Homo sapiens: one gene and its partner. The protein of the gene in region 2 purifies or fractionates together with the protein of the main gene of each other region. This does not show direct contact. Each region holds a gene or a part of one and is shown on either strand. Other genes may lie near its edges.

Evidence for each region.
Region 1: the proteins of SERINC5 (region 2) and IFIH1 purify together in Homo sapiens (affinity purification with western blotting, with the first as the bait; one study listed by BioGRID). This does not show direct contact.

What each region holds. Positions count from the first base shown.
Region 1 is NC_000002.12:162,280,442-162,284,265, forward strand, and holds part of IFIH1 (interferon-induced helicase C domain-containing protein 1), read right to left. Parts: intron 2,136-3,824; coding exon 1,925-2,135; intron 1,105-1,924; coding exon 887-1,104; intron 1-886.
Region 2 is NC_000005.10:80,245,879-80,249,702, forward strand, and holds part of SERINC5 (serine incorporator 5), read right to left. Parts: intron 1-3,824.

The DNA of each region.
Region 1 (3,824 bases), on a different chromosome or scaffold from region 2:
GAAAGAGTATAACAATTTACCATCATTGACAGAGAATGATTTTGAGATAACCATGTTACATGAGGCATATCAAAGGTCAACTTGACATCCGTGGATCATACTACCACCTTCTTCTACACATAAAGCAGGCATCTACACATAAAGCTGGGAGCATCCTTAGTCATGTTCCTTGATTATTAGATTGGAATTAGTCCTTAATCCCAGTAATAAATTATATTTTGGAGCCTATAATTGCATCTCTGAATGTTGTGTCTACTCTACATAATTTGTATTGAATTCAACTTAAAGTAAGGGACTTAAAATTCAAATGCAATTGCCTTGGTACCAAAATACTTCTTGGGCTACTCTGATTTACTTAACACTCAAGATTAACAGTAGCACTGTATGTGGTGTTACCATTAGGGGGCAGCTGACAAGCTCATCTTTAAAGATCTTCATATCCCTATTTCCCTTTAATTTGAATTACCTAGATTCCTAGAATAACATATGAAGGACAGAAAATACGCAGTTTTGAAACTCATGGAGTAAGACTTTATTATGTGTGACAACTAGAAACTTTCATAGTTTATGCATATTTCTATATCAGGTAGATCATTAAATTTAACCATAAGAGTAGATGTTCAAAAGAAGGCATTCTATTTATCTCAACTTCCCATTAATTATATCACTCTCCATCATTTTTATGATATGATTTTGTGTTATTGATATTTATTAAGGCATATTAGTATTCTGTAGAAGACTGAGTATATTTATTGTACTAAAGCAAACAGATTTCACTTAACTGATGATCACAGCACTTGAACTCAATCTTATTTAATAAGACCAAGAAGTCCTGGCATTTGTTTTAGCTTTGCTTTCATTGGTTATACATAAAATTATGACTTACTTTTAAAATGTGTTCTTCAGCTTTGGCTTGCTTCGTGGCCCCTCCAACACCAGGTGAAGCTGTTAGTCCCAGTATCTGAGGAAGGGGAATCACTGGTTTGTTTTCTTTCTTGAGTCTATTGTTTTTCAACTTCTGCATCAAATAATGCCTCATGATGTTATTATACACTGCTTCTTTGTTGGTGTGATGACATTCATCAATGATAATGAGGGAAAAGTCTTAAAAGAAAATTCAAAGAGTTCATTTCTCCATATCAGCACACTACAGTGAGAAAATAGCTTTAGACCAGTAATTGAGCTGCCTTGGGGATGCCTTCTCTTGGGCACGACACAAGAGCAGTCCACTTTCAGTTTTTAGGAGGGAAATCTAACTATACTAGCACCTGTACACACAGACGTTCGTATATACTAATCATGAAACTCCCTGTTAGACATTCTCCTTCTTTAATAGATAAGATTCAGAAAGTTTACAGAGCTAAAAAGCGTTAGATGTGGAATTCACACCCTGGCTTATTACAAAACAAATCTCAGGATTTTACTTTTGTTCTTTAATAAAATATTTAATTTTAGGTTGGTGAATTTTATTTTTATTACATCAAGTGAAAAACACACTATTTAAAGAGGGAAAATTTTGCCTTGTTTTAACATTGCATTTAGTTATTATAAATTATTTTTATTTTTTTCCATTCTTTCTCCTACCTTCTCATCCTATACCCCATAAAAGACAAGATTTGTATTTTTATTCTATGGGAAAGGGAAGCAGATCTAACAACATTCAATAGCAAATAAAGGAACTTGTCAGAATAAATGGAAAGTCCAGCGAGTGCTTGCCTTAATAATGGTATTCTTATGCAGAATAAAGTGGTCTAATTAAAAACTTACTTTTTTTGTTTCCTCCAGGAAGTAGAAGGATTTTAATAAAACCATAAGCAATAAAAGACAATTTAAGCCACGAACATTTAAAAAATTAACAAATACAGCCTTTGTTATCATCAATATTACTATTAATTTTTTTAAAAAAATAAACACTTAAACTGACCTGACAATTGAACACCAGCATCTTCTCCATTTTCCAAGTTTAAGAGGGAGTTTTCAAGGATTTGAGCTGTACTGATAATAATATCACAGGACTTGACAACTTCTGGAAATGATATTTTCAGTTGGGTATCACCACTTAATCCAATAACACGATACCATTTCTTCAAAAATGGTTGGAACTCCTTGCGGAAGAGCTGTTCAACTAGCAGTACCTTAAAAAAATGTGAAGATTTTTTAAAAGAGAGAAAGTTAGTCGAAGCCAAAAGAGTGTTGATCAAAGGCCTGTTTGGCATCCAGCATGAAAAGAGGTGTTTACATTATCAGTGAATCAGGCATAACAACGTTCCCATCACTCCTTTCATTCATCTGTCAATAAGCACTGATTATACCCTTGTTAGGTGTGGGCATTTATGTCTGGGACACAAAGATATTTAACATATGGTTGACAACTCTGAGGAACTCTGTCTAGCTGATCATACAGACCAAGACTAAACAAAGCAAGACAAATTATTACAACACAATGTAATAATGCTCACCTAGAAACACACACAAAGTGACAGTTAAGAGAAGAAGCAACTGACGACTCAAAAAAGGGGAATTTGAAGGAATTTGAATCTAGTAAGCCATGAGTCAGTGAAAAGATAAACTGAAGCTAAGGTTGAATAAGAAATACATTTTTAAATTTGTAGAGCAGTGCCAGGTTATAAAGGGCTGCAAACATCAAGCAGAGTATTTTACATGTAGTATAACAGTTTACAGGATCCCTACAAGTTGTACTGTTGAAGTGATTTATTCCTGTTGTTTGTTTTGGATTAGACCAGAAGCAACAGGCCCACAGGACCGGAAGAATCAGGGAACCACAAGTGAGGAGTTAGGGCATTGACTAGGAGAACAGATGTGAAGTGAAGAAATGAGCTGCTGGAATAGCTGTGGTGGCTGAGAAAGAACAAACCCGAAAGTAGACCTGGCAAAAGAAGTGGAAACTTCGGGTCCTTCTCAGCTGATTCTGTATGTTATAACATCTGCTGAAGGTAGCTGGGTTGACACCTCAATGCTACACATTACTAGTCACTCAAAATACCTTCTGGATTAGGAGAAAAAATATAAGGCCATCTTGAAGGTCATATCCTAGGAAGATTTATGCAATGGAAGCCCAGCAGTGTACAATATGGGAAACAGAGAGTTGGCAGGAAGAGTTTCAAGGGCAAGCTTCAAAGAATGCCCATTATATTATTCACTCTCCATAATTCTACCAGAAATGCAATCAGTGGTTACCTTTCTCCTAGTCTGTAGGGTTTGTGTTATTCATCTTTTTACTTGAGGTAAGTCCCACTTAGGTGTTAAATAAGGAATGGCTGATCCCCCTGGCTAAAGGGAACAGCTACCTTATGAAGAACACTGGTTTACTTTATTATTTAGTGGAAATGATGGAGGCTTCCAAAAGTAGGTGTCTGGGGGGCTGGAAGAAGGGGTGGGGAAGAGTTAAAATGAAATCCATAAATTCTAAGGAAGCAAAGTGGACTTAAAATCAGTAATCAAGTTGGTGAGTGAAAGAACATTACCTTACCACAAGGTGGAAAGGGTAGAAAGAGTAAGAAGAGAAACTTTCATTTAGTTCTTTTTTTTTTTCAAAGTAAAGTCTCTCTAATCTACCTGTTACAAACACGCTTGAGAAGTTTAGAAAATGCAGACTCCTAAGTCCCACTCAAGAATTACTGAATCTAGGGACAATCTCTGGGGGGCAGAGGCTTGAAACCTTCACTTTAATGACATTTAAGCCTTTAAAATTTGAGAGTCACAGCTCTGCTCTTCTCTCTCTCTTCCACAAAGCCGTTCTTGAATCATTTTCTAGAAGTATTCTTTCCATTTCATTTATGCAAGACAGAAGGCTTCTGAGGAAA
Region 2 (3,824 bases):
TGCTGGGATTACAGGTGTGAGCCACCACACCTGGCCCCAGAGAATATTTATCAATTGACATTTTACTTTAGGGATTGTCAGCTCTTTAAAAAAAAAAAAAAAAAAAAAAGAGTAACAGCTAACAAAATAAGTCCAACAAAGTCCTAGAGTCCTTAGGGATAAGGCTAGCAAAGCTAAAGAAAAATTACCACTATAGAATCCTATTAGAGCAAACAGTTTCATTACTATGGAAACAAAATACTGCCATTGTTTCTGAGAATGGCAGTGGAGGAGATCAATGAGCATGGAATCAAGAACAAAAGACTGAATTCCTCCCTAGTTGGGGTGAACCACACTCACCAAGGATCAAAGCATTAGGAAATCAGCCCTCCATTAAATTGCTGAGACATAATGTGAGTGCAAAAACAAAACAAAACAAAACAAAAAAATGGAAAAGGCATTCCACAAAGACCTCATGAATTTTGTTTCAAAATGCACTTAGCTAGTTTATAAAAAAATGATACTTAAACACAAGTCTGATTTTCCCATCTTCGCTAGTTATCTTTTCATAAATAAGATTTAAGGGGTTATGCATGTGTTTTTCCTACTTTTGTTTTGACTACACAGTTTTCATGAGAGAGTGAAAATGCTGTCTAATCACTATATACTGTAACCTTACTTCAAAAACCCACAAATTGTTTCAAAATTTACTCTCTGATAAAAACCCACTAAGTCTTTCCACAACAGCTGCTTTCCTTAAACATCAGCAATTTTAATCTCACAAGGCAAACTACGGAAGAAAAGCCAAAAGTAAAATCCTGCTTCCCTTTAAAATTCAAACAGATGTTCTGTGTAATCACACCAACTCAGTATTTGAATTTCCTACTGCCCTATACTGACTCTCAGATTAAGTTCTAAAATGTTTTGAAATATCATTAATATATAAGCTAGAAGAATATGGGGATATTCTCACTGTAAATGTTTTAAAATACATTTTAAGCAGGGCAGCAAAGGTTTACTCTGGGCTACTTGGGATGCCTAATATTTGGGAACAATCACAGTGATTTAGAGAGGTAACTTGATTGATACTGTTCTCAGGATCCAATCATAACCCTAAATTCAACTGCAAACAGCAATATGTAAAATTCACCAACAATGCGGCTTGACTCAGAACACTAAGAAAACACTGGGTCTTTACAATTAGGCAGGTATGGCCACTTAAAGTACTAAAAATAGCTTGGTCAAAGAATTACATCCAATGGCTAGTTCTGTAGACATATCAGCTTATATGAAGACTTCCTTTTTAACATCAAGTTATCACAGATGATCTGGCCACATACTGCTCTGAAATAAAAGTAGACAATGCCATAATTACTGCAGTGCCCTTTCTGAGGCTCTAACTGGTGACTACATTAAAATACCTGGAAAACTGGAAAGTAAAGCTTCCGTGTCTCATAGTCACTCCCAGATACTCAGTATCTGTGGGAAATCTACAGCCTCTATACAGAAAACGAGGGCGGAAAGCAAGCAATGGGGAAGGGGGTGTTACCTTTTATTTAATTAGCACAGAGAGATGAGTCAGAGGCTGCCTTCCACGCCTACAGACTGGCCTCTCCTCAACCGTGCCTACAAAGTCAGACTTGCTGCAGTCCAAAGCTATTTGTCAGCTGGACAGGTCAGCTACAGAGCTGCCCAAGAAAACATATTTGAATGAGCAACCATCAAGCAACTCTCCAACTAAGAGTGCAACCTTCACTCTCCATACTGTTCAAGGTAAGTGACAGAGGATTACCTGACAACCTGAATTTAGCTACACTACACAAAGACACTCCTAAGCCACCCTTCCTGTATCAGCTCACCAGTGAGCTATACAGAGTAGTCCCTCCTTACCCAAGGAGGATGTGTTCCAAGATCCCCAGTGGATGCCTGAAAGTGTGGATAGTACCCAACCCCATATATACTGTGTTTTTTCCTGTATATACATACCTATGAGAAAGTTTTGTTGTTTAAGACAGGGTCTCACTCTGTCACCCAGGCTGGAGTGCAGTGACACAACCATGGCTCACTGCAGCCTCGACCTCCCTGGGCTCAGGTGATCCTCCCACCTCAGCCTCCCAAGTAGCTGGGACTATATAGGCACACACACCACCATGCCCTGGCTAATTTTTGTTTTTTGTAGAGACAGGGTTTCTCCATGTTGCCCAGGCTGGTCTCTAACTCCTGGGCTCAAGTGATCCACCCACCTCAGCCTCTGAAAGTGCTGGGATTACAGGCATGAGCCACCTTGCCTGGCCTCATGATGAAGTTTAATTTCTAAATTAGGCACAGTTAAGAGATTAACAACAATAAGAAATAATAAAATCAAACTCTTATGACACTATGCCAACATCACTACTCTTGCGCTTTGGGGCCACTAAGTCAAATATAGGTGACTTGAACGACTTGAACACAAAGACTGCAATTCTGCGACAGTGGATCTGATAACCGAGATGGCTCCTAAGTGACTAAGGGGTGAGGAGCATAGGTAGACAGCTAGACAGCATGGAGATGCTGGCCAGAATTGATTCACATCCCGGTGGGATGGAGTGAGGTTTCATCACACTATTCAGAACAGGGCATAATTTAAACCTGTGAATTGTTTATTTCTGGAATTTTCCACTTAATATTTTCATACCCCAATAGACCTCAGGTAACTGAAACCACAGAAAGCAAAACTGCAAGTAAAGGGGTACTACCGTATTTAGCCAACATCAACCAAAACACCACCTTGACAGAACAATTATAGGGCACTTTACTGCATTGTGCCCACATCTTTATAAAGATGAACAGGAAAATAAAAGTGCCAGTGCTAGTGATAAGAAACACAGGCCTCAATGTTAATGCAGTGGAAGCAAAGATGGCCACCATCATACAGCAGGAAAACAGTGACTCAACCACCATTTGGACAGACGTTATCTGTGAAAGTAATTGTAAAAAGAAAAGGTCAAAGTTAAAGAAAATGTTGAAAATGACAGAAATATATTGTCAATGATGCCATCTAACAGAGATGAAATTAGGGATTTTTTTTCATTACTTTTGTCCTTTTGGGAATAGAAACACACCCAAACCTCTTAATGCAAAAGCTCATTAAGTGACTTTCACACATTCAACATTAACACCTCTGAAGAAACCATCAGGCCGGGTACGGTGGCTCACGCCTGTAATCCCAGCACTTTGGGAGGCCAAGGCGGGTGGATCACGAGGTCAGGAGATCGAGACCATCCTGACTAACATGGTGAAACCCCGTCTCTACTAAAAATACAAAAAAATTAGCCGGGCGTGGTGATGGGTGCCTGTAGTCCCAGCTACTCGGGAGGCTGAGGCGGGAGAATGGTGTGAACCTGGGAGGCGGAGCTTGCAGTGAGCCGAGATCGCACCACTGCACTCCAGCCTGGGCAACACAGCGAGACTCTGTCTCCAAAAAAAAAAAGAAACCATCAAGTTTGAAGGTAGAAGACTATCTACATATGAATGTAAACCCAGAAAACATTAACAGCTACAATAAGTGGTGGGTGCATGTTAAAAAAAACTTTATCAGTCACCTCATAATTATGCAAAAAGAGTGGGATCAAATACAGCACTTCCAACAAAATCCCAACTTTGCAAAGTAAAATTATAAATATCGGCCGGGCACAGTGGCTCAGTCCTGTAATACCAGCACTTTGGGAGGCTGAGGCGGGCAGATCACCTGAGATCAGGAGTTCAAGACCAGCCTAGCCAACATGGGGAAACCCCATCTCTACTAAAAACACAAAATTAGCTGGGCGTGGTGGCGGGCACCTGTAATCCCAGCTACTCAGGAGACT